Regions from separate parts of the Homo sapiens genome. Here region 1 is linked to region 2. The links come from fine-mapping of genetic effects on gene expression. A gene starts in region 2. The other region holds a variant in brackets. All regions are shown on one strand. Distances are between the middles of the regions. Region 1 overlaps ABCA6 (ATP binding cassette subfamily A member 6). Region 2 holds the start of ABCA10 (ATP binding cassette subfamily A member 10).

Evidence for each region. PIP is the estimated chance that this variant, and not a neighbour inherited with it, causes the effect.
Region 1: its variant is fine-mapped to the expression of ABCA10 in hippocampus (GTEx, PIP 0.99).

Annotation. Positions count from the first base shown.
Region 1 is chr17:69,080,326-69,088,674 of GRCh38, reverse strand. It overlaps ABCA6 (ATP binding cassette subfamily A member 6), which reads left to right. Exons shown (of 39, transcript NM_080284.3): 28 at 417-508; 29 at 1,202-1,322; 30 at 1,940-2,057; 31 at 2,959-3,050; 32 at 3,493-3,647; 33 at 4,168-4,243; 34 at 4,320-4,414; 35 at 5,344-5,463; 36 at 5,662-5,802; 37 at 7,530-7,609. Among named protein-coding and RNA genes, the nearest start is that of MIR4524B, 15 kb to the left of the region's middle. The variant A/C (reference allele first, on the strand shown) is at 3,832.
Region 2 is chr17:69,224,086-69,232,434 of GRCh38, reverse strand. ABCA10 (ATP binding cassette subfamily A member 10) reads left to right here and starts at 3,611. Exons shown (of 39, transcript NM_001377321.1): 1 at 3,611-3,854; 2 at 5,150-5,290; 3 at 6,906-7,110. The coding sequence starts at 7,077.

The sequences.
Region 1 (8,349 bases), 140 kb after region 2:
GTTCAGGCTTATGTATTAAAAAAGTAGCTCAGGATACTGTATTGAGAACAGATGTTTAGAACAAGAGGGGCAGAGATAGCCCAAGTAGGAAGGGGTTGCAACAATCCAGGTGAGACATTATAATGACCTAGGCCTGGGTGGGAGTATCATGAGTAGGGGTGAGAAATAATTGGGTTATGGATAATTTTGAAGATAGAGTAGATAGAATTTACTTACAAACTGAATATGGGTGGCGAGAAGAAAGGAAACAGGTTTCACTAACCTGGATTGTGAATGTATAGCTACATTTCTCCCCCAGCTTATGAGAATGATCCACAACTATTTACCCAAAGACAAAACACCACCAACTTAATTCAAATATTTAAATAATATTTGTGAACTTATGCCTAAATATAACTGTATTTCTTTGCTCATAGCCCTACTTTCAGACTTTGCTATTCGTTTTTGTTCTAAGATGCATGGAACTAAAATGTGGAAAGAAAAGAATGCGAAAAGATCCTGTTTTCAGGTTGGGGTGAAATTTAACTTTATACTTAATATCATATTTTAACATTCCTAGATGGTGTCTGTGCTATCATCTTGTTAATACAGATTTACATTTACAGTGGAAGCACATGTTGATTGTCATTAGGGAATGTGGATTGCTGCCTTACTGCCAAGAGATAGAACTCCCAGGCAGAGTTCTGGCTGTAAGCAGCTGTAAGAAACCTTCACTCCATCCAAAATTTAATAAGGACCCAAATATGCCATTCTCTCGTCTGAGATAATTGTGCATCCTTGAAAAGAAAAGATGGGAAGGAATCGATTTAGCAACATAGTTGAGTGTTTTAAAAATGGAGGGCTGTAGAAAGGGTGAGCAGTAAATGATGTTGAAAAAACATCTGGTGTGATGAAGATGAGCTCAGACTGAGTAGAGAAAATGAGAGTGACATGAATTTTAAAGAGAAAGGAGCAGTACCTGCTGACAGATTTGAAAGGGTCAAAGATTCTTACCAGAAGAATGGCAACAACATTAAGAAAAGGATTCTGGCTAGTGGGACAGGAGTTCTTGGCAAAAGCAGAAGCAATATTGACAGTCATCATCACATCATCACCTGCACATTAGAGAAGAGGACAGTAGTAAAATCACAGGAATGCTGATTTTTGACACATCTTTTAACAGCTAGAATACCACATGTAACACATTTCATTTTCTCCATAGAATTTCCCCCCAAAGTAGAGATGCTAAGCCAAATCCAGAAGAACCCATAGATGAAGATGAAGATATTCAAACAGAAAGAATAAGAACAGCCACTGCTCTGACCACTTCAATCTTAGATGAGGTAAAAAAGCAAGGGGCAAAATGGATATTAATGGAGATATTCAAGAACTGTCAAGAGCAGGATTTGATACACTGGGTTTCATTTTGAGAGTTTGGAGTTTGGTGCATTTCTGTATTATGCGTCCAGGACACTCCAAAGAAGTATCTGCATAATCAAGGCACTCCGCTTATTCAGAGTGTCCTAGAAGCTAAAAAGAACACAAAACCTAATGGTTTTAATTTTTCTTTTGAGAAAAGTGGGCTTTCATAATTAGGGCTATAATTGCAAAACCAACAAGACCTCATGAGTTAAATAATTTAAGTTAGATTTGTCGAAGAATGCGAAGAATGCTAAATAGAGATTAAGATTTTAAGGTTTACTCTATTTGACTTAGATGTGATGGTTCCATGAGGTTAGCCACCCCTCTTCTGGCAAGACAATAAGCTGCTTCCATGAAACTCAGTCTATTTAGAAGCAAGAAATATTTTCTACATTAATGAATGCATATTACATTTAGCAGCATGAATTACTCTCAACTCAAAATATGGTTTGGCTTATGACATAAGGCATGAAAGGTTCCAGCAGAGACCTAAAGTCTCTGAAATTTAAGAGGAAAATCATGCTGTCATCTCTTCTAGAAACCTGTTATAATTGCCAGCTGTCTACACAAAGAATATGCAGGCCAGAAGAAAAGTTGCTTTTCAAAGAGGAAGAAGAAAATAGCAGCAAGAAATATCTCTTTCTGTGTTCAAGAAGGTCTGTAATAATCCCTTTTAAAACTTACCATTACTTTTAGAACTACCTACCGAACATCTATGTCATAGGCACAGTTTTACTCGCTGAAGCATTCATTCATTTATTCTATATATATATATATATATATATATTTAGTGTGCCAGGGAGTGTTTTAGACTCTGGAAATACAATTATGAAGCCACTAGACAAAGAGCATCCAGGTAGAGGAAACAGTGAGGGCAGGGACTCAGACACATTTGGAAACGTTGTGTCTCTAGCCAAGAGGCCAGTGAATGCATCCATAAATGGAAGGGATAAAGCTATAGAGCTGAGCAGCGCCAGATTAGGTACAGCTTTTGAAAACAGCAATGAGTTTGTGTTTTATACAAGTTAGCATAATACCATTGGAGAGTTTTTAGCGGACTTGTGTCATATTTAATTTATATTTTGAAAAGATTACAGATTGGCTATTGTTTGTTTGTCAGTTTGGGTTGGGGGGGACAAGTTCAGAGGCTTTTATATCAGTTGGGATGAAAGATGATGGTAACTTGGACAGAGGTGGTTGAATTTGGGATGAAGAAAATATCCCTAACTTCTCAAGTTTGAGAATCATTCATACATGTACTCAGTGCATCGGCCATCTATTACGGAAAACAGTTGGACACATTTCCAACTGAAACAAGTAATCTGGGGGGAAAAGGACAGATGTATTGACATCAAATTCATTAGCTTTGCAGTAACATTTGGCATAATTACAGAAAATAAAGAACATGCTTTGGTGACGTGGATTACATATATGTTATCAATCTCAAAATGGTACTAACTGAAGGGTGCAGAAATCTCAGAAGATTTCACTGGAGCAAAAGGTTTATGTTGTTCAGTATTTCACTTCCAATATTGATAGTCTGATTCTTTCTTTCAGGTGAAATTTTGGGATTGCTAGGACCCAATGGTGCTGGAAAAAGTTCATCTATTAGAATGATATCTGGGATCACAAAGCCAACTGCTGGAGAGGTAGTGAGGAAATGGTTTCCATTTCCAAAACAGGAATTTCATGATACGTATAGATTATATCTTTGTAAGACTATACTATTTTTCTTTTCTTTTTTTTTTTTTTTTGCCTTTGGATAAATTTTATTTTTCCCCTCTTTAAATTTTTACTGGGCATCAGGTGTTTATAACAGGACTTGGAATCTTACCAGAAACCAATTACCTTTTACTCATCAGTTTCTCAAGAACTACCTGAGCTTATTAGGTCTCTTTTCTTCTCTGCATGTAAAACTATATTTTTATATTTGTACTTTAAATCATTTTCTGTAATAAATATATGAAGTAATTTCTATAGTATTTATTTGATGCTTAAACAATTTAGACGCTTATATATGTCAGTTTCTGGAGTAATTACGCTATTGGAATAAAGGCTGCATGCCTTTCTAAAGCTCTTTTATTTTTTTAGGTGGAACTGAAAGGCTGCAGTTCAGTTTTGGGCCACCTGGGGTACTGCCCTCAAGAGAACGTGCTGTGGCCCATGCTGACGTTGAGGGAACACCTGGAGGTGTATGCTGCCGTCAAGGGGCTCAGGAAAGCGGACGCGAGGCTCGCCATCGCAAGGTACAGACGGGACCTGCGATTCCTTTGTGTCAGAATGCAGGGAGACTGTAGCACTGATGATGAATTCACTAATAAAGAACCGAGAGTCAATATGCTATCTCCACCTTTCCAGAGTGTCAGTGGCAGAGCAGGGATGAGGGACAAGACCTGACTTCCTGCATCCCTGAATGAGAGATCTTTAAAA[A/C]ATGATTATATAAAATAATTGACAAGGAATAAGTGAACGAATCACCATGAATCGTCATCCATTTCAGTTTTCTAATTTAAAAAACCTGGAAATGAAATAATCATCCATTGTCAGTTTCTCATTCAGAATTCTAGTTTTTCCTAAAACTGTTTATGAGGCAAAAAAAAAAAAAAGTCTTTCATGTTCCAAAATAAACCAATCTCTTTTTTAAAATTATGAGTTAGGATTTTGACAATAATATTACTAAACTTCCCTCTAATGCTGTTACTGTTCTGTGTGCTTGGATTTTCCAAAAACCTTGTCTTGACCAGATATTCTCATTCTGTTTTCTGTCAGATTAGTGAGTGCTTTCAAACTGCATGAGCAGCTGAATGTTCCTGTGCAGAAATTAACAGCAGGAATCACGAGAAAGGTACGTGCGGTGTGTGATGCTCTATGGAGAGCTGGTGTGGTATGGCAGCAAACAGGGGTGTTTTTCTACATTGCAGTTGTGTTTTGTGCTGAGCCTCCTGGGAAACTCACCTGTCTTGCTCCTGGATGAACCATCTACGGGCATAGACCCCACAGGGCAGCAGCAAATGTGGTGAGCATCATTATACCCCAGAGCTGCGAGCATGCACATTAGGGAAGGTTGCATATTTTAACTGGTCTTGGAAAATCAGCCCTCAAACCCACTAGTTCCTGATTCAGTGGAAATAATTTATATTATCAGGAAAACAAATATTTAACCAGTAGATGATCTAATCTGCATGATGTTCACGTGGTATTCAGGTTAAAAAGACCCAACATTTTCTTGGGGTTTTAGGTTTTTAATGTGGACTGTTAAAATACAAAAATATTTTGCCTTTTAATTATTGAGATGTCTATAACTGTTTCTTCTTTTTTCCCTTCTACTTTGTTTCCTGGGAGACTATTAACTTCCTGACACAATTTTCCTGTTTGTTTTTTTTCCTTTTTAATGTGACCTGTCAAATTTGTTCCTCCAGTTTTTCTCGGGTTTATTCTTTTACTTACTTTTCCCATCTAGGATTTACCCTTTGGAATAATAAAATCTTCAATCTAGTTTCATATTGGTCACTGTCCGATACTTTTCCAACTTTAACAAAAACTTTGTTATGGTAATTTTATACAAATGTAGAGAATCGCTTATGAATCCATTATTCCCATGGACAAGTTTCAGCAGGTATCAATAGAACCAATCTCCTTTGATCTATATCTCCACCCACTTCCTTTCTCCACCCTCCAATTATTTTGAAGGAAATACAAAGCAACATATTCTTTAATTTATAAATATTTCAGTTAGTATCTTCAGAAGATAACTCAACTACAATATGATTAGCACATCTAAAAATACTTAAAAATGTTATTTATGTTATCAAAAACCTAGTCAGTACTTACATTGCACTATTTTTTTGCATTAGGATCTGAATATGATTCATATATTGTATTTTATCTTTTTTTTCTTCTGCACTTAGTTATTTTAAATACTGTTAATTTTTTTGCTCACTGCAGGCAGGCAATCCAGGCAGTCGTTAAAAACACAGAGAGAGGTGTCCTCCTGACCACCCATAACCTGGCTGAGGCGGAAGCCTTGTGTGACCGTGTGGCCATCATGGTGTCTGGAAGGCTTAGGTGGGTGTCTCTCCGAAGCCTGCATTTGATGCTCAAAATGAGATTTCCCATGGAAAGGGCAAAAATCCCTGTGTGTGGCTGGAGCCCTTCCGTTTGGCTTCCTTGGTGACACCTTTTCTTCTACATTTGAAATTTAAGAATAACATTAAAAAATTAAGGGCAATATTTTTTCCAACATATTCTCTTTCTTGCCCATAGATGCATTGGCTCCATCCAACACCTGAAAAACAAACTTGGCAAGGATTACATTCTAGAGCTAAAAGTGAAGGAAACGTCTCAAGTGACTTTGGTCCACACTGAGATTCTGAAGCTTTTCCCACAGGCTGCAGGGCAGGAAAGGTGAGACGGGCTTTTGATTATGGAGAAATATGGAGGGTTTATCCACTCAGTGGTTTCCTTTTTGCTGTGTGAGAACTTCATAGTGATTTGGCTTCATAATAAAAGTTAGGGACCTCAGAAAAGGATTTGTTCAGTATTCCAGATTATAAGAGATTGAGACCTACCCAGGAAGCTGTGTCCCCTGGGGCAGACCAGGCACACTCTCCTTGGCCATCCCAGGCTGATCCCCAGCTCCAGAGGGGTACTTGGAAAGACTTGGGAGAAGGAACTTCTAATGACTCAAACCCACACAGGACCACAATGGTGTCCTTCCTGGGCCTCCTCATAAACGCTTAACATATATAAATATTTAAAATTTAAAAGATGTAAATATTTAGGGTGAATTTTCCCCATAGGAAACAAATGGCAATTGAGATAATCAAAGAGTCTTTCTTTAATGGAATTTTCATACCTTAAAATAGAGAGTGGAAAGGGGTATGTGTGTATGTGTGTGTGCATGCCCACATATCTGTGTGTGTGTGTGTGTGTGTGTGTGTGTGTGTGTTTGTGTATGTCTGTATGTTATTTGGGGGAGGGCAAGAAGGTGGAGCAGAAACTGAATTTGAAATTCCCGTGGAGAGATAAGTACATCAAAAAATAGGACATAAAAGCTACTATTTTATTTTAGCACAGTGTAAATGTAATTAAATTTTCTAAGATAGATATCAGAACATGTAACTTTGTCCCATTCCCAGACGTTTGGTGTCACAAATCAGAGAAGTGGTTCTGATATAGGTGGGAAGATCAAAAATGATAAAACAGAAAGAGCAGTGGCTGGTCTGAAAAGGGCCAATCTTGGACATCTGGTCAACCTTAGTGCCACCTGGGAGCACCAAACCCCTGTTTGGGAATAAGCTGGGAATAGGGCATGAGGGTTTACAGCCAGAAGTAGCACACGGAAGCAAGATGCCCCAAATCAATTACGTCTCTTCCTTAGAGGTCAGGAAGTATTTTGTTAAAGTGTTTTATGTCCTTCCTCTACTGCAATCTCCAACTCTCCCAACCTCATATTATTCTTTACAAGTTAGACTTCTGGGAGGAGGGGGAATCAAGGAGATTCCGAGGTTTTTTGGTTGGCAGCCCAAGCTCTATTGATTTCCTTACTTCTAGATTGCCCTAGGGCCTAGAAAAAGCCTTCAGAATAAATATGTCTTCCTTACAGATCTTTCGCCAATATCAACCTCCATCTCCAAGATTTGCCACTATTTATGGTTTTACAAAATAGTCCTGAATTTACTTTTGTTTAAGTGTTTATATTTTCCATTGTAAATGTAAAGCAAATTGCTGGAAATGTAAGAAATAAAGAAAAAATTCATTCATTAAAAAAAACAAAACAATGAATTAGCTTTCTGATGACAAAGATGAACATTTATTTTGGGGTTAATTCCCAACCTAATTCGAACTAATCAAAGGGAATAGTTCAGAATACCTGATTTTCAACACGCAAAGGTTTTGCATAAGCTGAGCACATATATAATTATGCTGAGTTATTACCAGGAGAGCTGTCTGCAACAGCCAGATACCAAAAAGCAATTCAAAACAATGCTGTGATTTCATATTTAAGCCATACATTAATTTGCATTACTTTTATTTTAAGAAGAAAATTGTTGGTAATATCAATATTTATTCTGATGCTCATTTTCTCCCCTTGAAACTCAGAGCTGAAAACGACATCTTCCTGTTTTCAGGTATTCCTCTTTGTTAACCTATAAGCTGCCCGTGGCAGACGTTTACCCTCTATCACAGACCTTTCACAAATTAGAAGCAGGTAAGAGTGACCACATTCAAATAAATCTTTTGAAGAATCAACTAATACTAAAATAATAATTTAATGGAAGCTAATTGTGTAACAATTTTTTAAAATAGGGCTGTAGGGCATGATTTTTAAGAATTCTAACTGTAGGTAATGGTGAGATTTAATCCCAATTTAGGTTACTCTGACTCTGTGAAAAGAGGTTAATCTCCAGTGCAGGGACCGAAGCTGCAGGAAACACACATGCTTAACTGTTCTTACTGTGAAACCATGGCATCCCCCTCTAAAAGCCCCTCTGTGTGGCCTGCTTTGCCTACATGTATATAATCCATTCACACCAAGTGTCCCAAATTATTACTTTACTCCCTTTCTTTCCTTACATATCCACCTCCTTCCCACTTTTATCCCTCAGTTGATGCCCTTGCTTTATATTTCACTAATAAAATAGAAGCAACAGAGAAAGTTTCCATCCATCCATCAACCTCCTTGTGTCTGTGCAGGTGTATTTGGCCTTCCTATTTGAATGATAGCTTTGACCGTCCCCTGCATTGTGTGTAACTCCTTTTGCTGGTTGTAATTGTCCACACTCTCTCTCCTGTCATCATTTTCTCTGCTTTCAACCCCGTCATTCCCAACAGCAGACCATTGGGTGTAATTTCTCAGCACAGCATAATGGTGAAGAGCTCAAACTTTAGAGCCCATCTTTCTGGGTTCTCAGCCCAGGCATGCTGCTTACTAGCTGGGTGACGTTGGGT
Region 2 (8,349 bases):
TTTGTCAGCCTTACGGTAACCACAAAGCAAAAACCTATAATAGATATATTAAAAATACAAAGCAAGAAATCAAAACACTACTAGAGAAAATCATTTACACACAAAGGAAGATTGTAAGAGAAGAAAGGGTCCACAAAACAACTAGAAAACAGGTATCAAAATGGCAGCAGTAAGCCCTCATCTATCAATAATTAACTTGAATATAAATGAAATACATTCTTCAATCAAAAGACATAAAGTGGCTGATTGAATAAAAAACAAGACCCAACTATCTGCTGCCTACAAAAGACTCACTACACTTGTAAAGAGACACATAGATTGAAAATGAAGAGATGGAAAAAGATATTTTATGCACATAGAAACAAAAAAAAGAGTAGGAGTAGCTATACTTATATCTGATAAAATAACCAAAACTTTAAAATGAGATAAAGCCATTATATAATGATAAAGAGGCCAGTACAGCAACAGGATATAATAATTATAAATACATATGTACTCAACATAAGAGTACCGAAATATATAAAGCAAATATAAATAGATCTAAAAGGACAAATATACTGCAATAAATAATTGTAAGGAACTGGAATAGACAGATCATCCAGACAGAAAATCCCAAAGAAACATTATAATTAAACCACATATTAGACCAGATGGATATAACAGACATTTATAAAACATTCTGTCCAACAGCTGCAGAATACACATTCTTCTCAACAGCACATGGAATATTCTCCAGGAAAGGTCATATGTTAGGCCACAGAACAAGTCTCATCAAGTTTAAAAGAATCAAAATTACATCAAGTAGCTTTTCTGACCACAATGGAATAAAACTAGAAATCAATAACAGGAGGAACATTGGAAATGGTACAAATACACGGACATTAAACAACATCCTCATGAGCCACTAATGGGTCAATGGAGCAATTAAAAAGGAAAATATTTAGAACATTCTTGAGTCAAAAAGGGGGAACATGATATACTAGAACCAAAGGGATACAGCAAAAGCAGTTTTAAGAGGGAAGTTTATAGCAATACTTGCCTACATCAAAAAAGTAGAAAGATCTCAAATAACCTAACATGGCAACTCAAGAAACTAGAATAACAGGAGCAAACTAACTCAAAATTAGTAGAATGAAAGAGACAAATACACAGGAGAATGCCATTTGAAGACACAGGCACATAGAAGAGAGAATGCCACGTAATGACAACACAGATATTAGAGTTACGTATCTGCAAGTCAAGGAATGACAAGGGTTGCTGGCAATCACCAGAAGCTGGGAGAGAGAGCATGGCTTTTCAGATAGGACAATGATTTTTGGACTTCCGGACTCTGACACTTTGAGCAAATCAATTTCTAAGGTACCCAGTTTGTGGTACTTTGTTATGGCAGCCCTAGGAAACTAATACAATGGAAATTTGGGCAGGGAATGTAAGAAGATGAGCTAGTTTATAAGATATTTTATAAGATAAGGTAGCTTAAGAAAGCTGGCAGTGACAATATTTTCTCATATGTAATTGCCAGTCATATGTAAAGAAAGATGGAAGGAGAGAAGAGATTGTAATAGAAATTAACAATAAAATAAAAAGAGATAACCAAGAGAGCTAGATTTTTAGATTAGGTAATAGAATTTGATCGAAGGATTCTGCAGTGGTGTTGAGTTTAGAAAAAATTGGCTGAGTTTCCTCTGGGAAATTAGAATGAAATAGAGGTATGTGGAGGAAAACTTCTGCCAAATTGCCTCTGATTGTTCATTAATATAGTACATTTACCTGCTGAAAGCCATCGTGCTTTCAGGGGTCAAGGACTCAAGAGTAAGGAAGAGTTTGATGAGGAGGTGCTAGTTGGTATTATGTAACGTGGATGTGCATAAGCCTAAATCTGGAGTATTTCAACATTCTGACTCTGTAGCAGAACTGTATAATTATAAATATGTAAAGGCTAAGAATGAAAAGGGTCCAAATCCTATTATAAATGTGTAACAGAGACCTGAGGATTTTATATGACCTCTCCAAGGGACACAGACAATGAGTGACAAGTCTGCAATGCAGGTCTCAGACTCCCAACTGTACCGTATTGGAGATTGAAATCCCTAAAATTATTGTCTTAGCTTGTTTTTTATTGCTATAACAGAACACCACAGATTTAGTTGTACCCAGCAGACTGGGTAATTTATAAAGAAAAGAAACTTATTTCTCACAGTTCTGGAAGCCGAGAAGTCCAAGAGCATGGCACTGATATCTGGTGAGGGTCATCCCACAGTGGAAAGGTGAAAGGTGGAAGCATGTGCATGAGACAGAGAGAGAGAGAATTGGGCCTAACTCATCCTTTTATCAGGAGCCCATTCCCAAGATAATAGTGTTAATCCATTTATGAGGGTGGAGCCCTCATGACCTAATCACCACTTCTAAAGGCTACACTTCTCAATGCTGTTTCATTGGTAATTAAATTTTAACATGAATTTTAGAGGAGACATTCAAATCACAGCAATTATGGAAATAAAAAATATTTTAAAAATTTGGTGATTAAGAAGGGTGTATGTCTGTATTATAGTATGATTTTAATTGTTTTCCCCACCCATTTAAGTGAATATTACCATTAATGTCTGGGATCGGAACCAGGTTAAGTTTCATGTTTTCTATTTCATGAACTTTTACTTCTAGTAATGATTTTGCCTGAATAGGAAGAGAAATGTCACTAACAACAAAGGAAAGCAATTAAAGTATGCTTCCTTTGTTGTTAGTGACATTTACAATTAAAGGAACCATTTATTTCCATATTCCTAATGAAAATGGTAATCATTTGAAGAGTCTCTGAGTCCTTTACCCTTTCTGTCTCTGTCACTTTCATGAATGGGCATTAGCTTCTGTATGCATACCAAGAAGTGTATTATTATAGTTAAAATCACATAAAAAGATTTTCAGGGTTGATAAAGAGGCATTATTTGCCATTCTGAGAATATCCAATTTAGTTGTAGCTGAAAAAAAAGTAACAAAATCATTAAAGTTATGCCATCTAGTCTATACCACTACACTTTTTAAATGGGTATCAGATATCATTGTCTTGATTAGCACCATTTTCATAGTGGTAGTTAAGAGTGAGGGATCTTGGAGTCCAGATACTATTCTGGACTCATCTGTTGGCTTCACACTTATTTAAACATCTGCAAATAACTTCACCTGTTAGCCCCACCTTTCAAATTTGTTTAATGGATGTGAGTAGAGTACCAACTTTGTAGGTTTGCTTTGAGTATCAAATGGGAGAATTCATTTAAACCCTTAGAACACTTTCTAGTACATAGGAATTAGTGAATACAAGGAACCATTTAACTGAAATGCAGTTAACTTTCAGATGAAACTTTCTCATTGGAATGATTCAGATTTCTGAGATGAGCAATCCTCATTTTCTCTCTCTCTGTTCAACTTTATCTTTAATTTGCTCCTTTTTTAGCTTGGCTGTCAAATTTTTAATTATTAAAAGTCATGCAATTGTAAATATGTAGTTATCCATGCAATTGTAAATATGTGGGTTTTTCTTTTTGAATTTGATCTCTTTTTTTGTGTGTATGCCAAAAAGAGCAATAAACAAATACCAATGATGCGCTCAGCCAACAATTCATTACACTCTCTGAAGAGTAACTGGACAAGGAGAAAAACATAGGGAAAAAACCAACAGAATTTGTTGGCATGTTCTACACACAGACCATGGCTTTTCAGAAGCCAAGCTGAATCAAAACAGTTTTAAAAGAGGCAACCATTTGTAGAGGAGTCCTTGAAGGATTCTTCATTGTTTTCTTGGACAAAAAGAGACCAGTGGATCCAAGTGCTTCAAATACTTCTCTCTTATTTTCTTAACTGTAAGTTAAAATTTGTTTTACATTTTCACTTTGCATAAGGTTTTAAAGATATAAAGTATATAGCCAAAGCCAAACATATTGATTGAAATTTTTAAAATTATATTATTCAGATGCTCTAAATTATTTTATGCTTTATGTTATAGTACTAGTGAGTTATTTTATTTTAAAAACTTATGTAACATTTTAGTGTGATAAATGAAAGATGGCTAGATTCAGAGGTGTATATAAATATTATCAGACAATAAATTCTCTCTCTGACACTGCTTTGAATATCCTTTTGAGAATTTGTATGGTTTTACTTCTTTAGAATGTGTGAGCATTAGGGCAAGTTCCTTTTTTCTGTGTTCTTTTGTTCTTTTAAAATGTTTTTGTGGTTTGCTTATGGAGCTGTTTAAGTAGACCTCTGTATCCATAAAGTGAAGATTGGTGTTTTAATGTTTCTACTTTCTTAAGTTAGAATTTAGAGATTATATTGGGTTTTGCTGGCTTTGCCTTTTATTTTATGAAAAAGGGGAAATATAGCAAGTTCTCTCTGAACATTGTAATTTGTATATAATATCAACATTTATTCAAATGGACTTCAGTAGTCATAGTTGTGACACCAAATGATCAGCTCTGGATTTTCAAATTGAAAACAAAGAATAAGGATCATTATTACAAATCAATTACTCTAGTCATATTAGCCAATATTTTTGGTTTTAATCTGTATGTATCTTACATATTTACTTCATAAATGGAGATTTAAAAAAGAGGAATTAGCTTTTTGGGATTCTAAGAATGGCCGTAATGTTTTCGACTTTGCTTTGCCCAGTGGTTAACAAGATATCAAATACATGTGCCCAGATGTGCAATTCAAAATAAGACAGCTTGTGGTCAAATTGCTGACTGACAAGGAACTGCAAAGTGGTTTCTTCCTGTTAAACTTCTTTTTCTTAACAAGTAAAGAGAAAGTGTTTTTTGGATTCTAAAAATTACTAAGATCTTATTGAGGGATTTACTTTAGGTGGATGTAATGTTAAGATTTCATGGAAAAAAAGTGACTTCTGAGACAAAAGGAGAAAGGTCTTATATACTATCTCCTTTATCTCCCTCATAGCCATAAAAGCCTGGAGAGAAATAACAACTGAGAAGACATTTTATAATTACTAATACTTTATATTCTTTTTTAAAATCCTGATTGAATATGTTGCTACAGTGTCATATAAGGCATTTAGTTGGCACATCTGAAAATTATGCTTTCAAAATGTTCAAAGGCTTTCTGTAACTGAACTTTTTTTTTTTCTTTTTTCCCCTAGCTATTGCTCTGCAATATTTACTTTACCCTGTTAATGAACAGGACAAAATGGTTAAAAAAGAGATAAGCGTGCGTCAACAAATTCAGGCTCTTCTGTACAAGAATTTTCTTAAAAAATGGAGAATAAAAAGAGAGTTTATTGGTATGATTCACTATATATATATATATATATCCATAATTAATAAATGAAAATCCACCATATAGTATTATGCCATTTTTATTACTTTTCTTGTTTATAAATTCTGATTTTTAATTATCATACTGGCTAGTTGATTTGAGATTCTAAATACTGCAAAACGATATATATTTTGCAAAATAGGATAATATTTGTGTCAAATGTGAAATTAACTAAAAAGCTCATCTGACAGCTCCTGAAAAATAATCTTTTGCAGAATAGAACCAGCCATTTTCCACATAATTAATGCATTCAAATCTCAGAGTCATTCTGATTTACTCTTAGCTAACTTCTGTGTTGGGGGCAGGGACAGCCAGGGGAAAGATAAGCTAGGCAAAATAAAATAGATTTTTACGTGGGCAAACCCTGATACTATTTGGGGACATTTCGATTAATGTCATGTTATTTGGTAAGGCTGGGAAAATATCTATGAGTAAAAATCTGCAAACTTTTTTGGAATCTCTTCAAAGCCGTGCTTTTTGTAAACATAGAATGGTTTCATGGAATAAGATCACAGATTGTCAATACCTTTGCATTCTGTTGAGTTTCTTGTATGCTGACATGAATATTAAGACATTGCTTTGTGTTACTATGAGATATAACTGGATCTGCCTTGACCATGTAGAGATTGCAGTCTGTTCAGAAATAGTCAGTACCATTTCAGTGGGAGCTAACAGGATTTATATCATCCTTTTAAATTTCTGCAATAGCTTCCGAAGCAGTTCGATCAAATATTTTGCTTCGTATATTGAAGAAGGATACATCTATATTTATTACTCACTAGAATTTAAAAAAAGTATGTCAATCCAGAAATGTGAAAATATTGGTACAATGAACACCTATACATCCACCATCCAGATTTGACAGCTGTTAACATCTTGCCATCTTTGCTTCATCTCTCTGTCTCCTCTTCTTCCCTAAAATATATGTAATGGCTAAATATTTTAGTATCTCAAAAAATTAAGAACTTGGTTCCCTACATTACCACTATCCCACTACACAAAATTAAAAATAATTCCATATCATCTAGTTCCATGGCCAAATTCAATTTTCCAAATTTCCCCCAAAATGTCTTTTAAGGTTGATTTGTTCAGGAACCAATGAGACAAAACTAGTTATCCTGTTGAATATTCCATGTTCTCTTTTTATCTGATTGCCTCTCCATGCTGTCATTTAAGTCATCCCTTTATCATCTATATTTTTTGTAAGCAGTGAGCTGGATCTAAAAGCAGGATCCAATTCTGGTTAAATATTTTTGGCAAGAGTATCTTCTGTGTGATGCCATATACTTACGTTGCTTCAAATATGAGGGCATAAAATCAATGGCAGTCCCACTAATAGGGGTGCTAAATCACTGGGTTAAGATTGATTGCAATTGTTGATATTATCTCAAAAGTTGTGTATTTTTGAAAGGGTGTTTTTTTCTTTAAAAGGTAGATATTAATTTGGGCAGAAAAAAATTACAGACTGAAATGAAGTCATGCTCAATGGCAATACATTCTGCCTTAAAAATGTGTTTGGATGTTTCTCACTGGTCTGGACCACGTTATAACATGGCTCATTTCTCTTTTGTGTGCTGGAGGAATGGACAATAACATTGTTTCTAGGGCTATATTTGTGCATCTTTTCGGAACACTTCAGAGCTACCCGTTTTCCTGAACAACCTCCTAAAGTCCTGGGAAGCGTGGATCAGTTTAATGACTCTGGCCTGGTAGTGGCATATACACCAGTCAGTAACATAACACAAAGGATAATGAATAAGATGGCCTTGGCTTCCTTTATGAAAGGTGTGTTGTCCAATAACCAATGTTTCAGTATTATGTGACTTAATTTTCAAGTTCTTTTTGCAGGTTGAATTTACTTACCTAGCCTGTGTGTCAGTGATTCTCAACTGAGGCAAAGATTCTCATTATATATGCAGTACAGGGGTTGGTGTGAAGCTAAGGGTAGGTGGGCAACAGATGAAATGATTTACTTTTGTTTGTTTGTTTGTTTTTAATGATATGCATACCGTTTGCCCTTTATACTAGAACATATTGTTGCAGTAGGAAAAAAAGATTGGACCCATTTTAGATGATACAAATTTCACTTTTCCAAAACTTAACTTAAAAAACTTTATATTTGGGTTGGTATTCTATAATTTAAAGAGTTTCAAAAAATTTTAAGGATTTAATTATTTTCAATTGAGATTGAAATAAATATAGTTCCCAGTATATAGGAATTATAAATCAAAGGTGTTTGAAATTCAAACTCAAGCTTAGCAATGGTGTTGAAAAAGCATTACTGTTTGGTGTATAAAAATAGTTAAAATGTACAGCTCAGGGCATTTAAAATTATTTAAAATCAAATCAGGTATTGGCTACTGAAAGTCAACAAATTCACAGCCCTTGATCTTAGAGTAGTGAGGCTTTTTTTTTTTTTTTCCCATAAGACTTTTTCTGCATATCTGGACTCAGAAAATAGATGTCTCTATGTTATGTAGGATGCTGCATTAATTTGATGTATGCATCTCATAAAGAAATAAGAACACCTGAGAGTCCTACTTACTATGTGAGACCTTTGCCTACCATCCTTTATATCTCTACTGCCATTAGGAGTAACTATTGGTGGTCAGCTGTGGTCTCTGGACTCTCCATAGAGGCCTTTGCTCCTGCATAGGGAAAGTATCAGGATAAAATGTTCTTTTCTTCAGCAATCTTAGCCTACTATCAAATTTCTCTTGTTGTTAGCCCTCATTCTGCCAGGGTTCTGAACATTGGCCATTTCATCCTTTTGTACATTTTATCCAATCTGTTAACGTCTCAGCTCTAATCACTGCTTTTTCTTGTCTTTCTGAAACTTTTATTTAGTTTTTTGGTGTCTGGATTGCCATGCCAAGGGACACCTCCAAACTCTGAATTTTAATTATTTTATGTGAGTTGCTAATATTCTGTGCCTAACCTATCCAAGCTTTCGAATGGGTATTGTTATCCCTGGCTGCTTTACCCTGTTTTGTAATTCTTCATTGCAGTTTCTGGAGCTTTGAC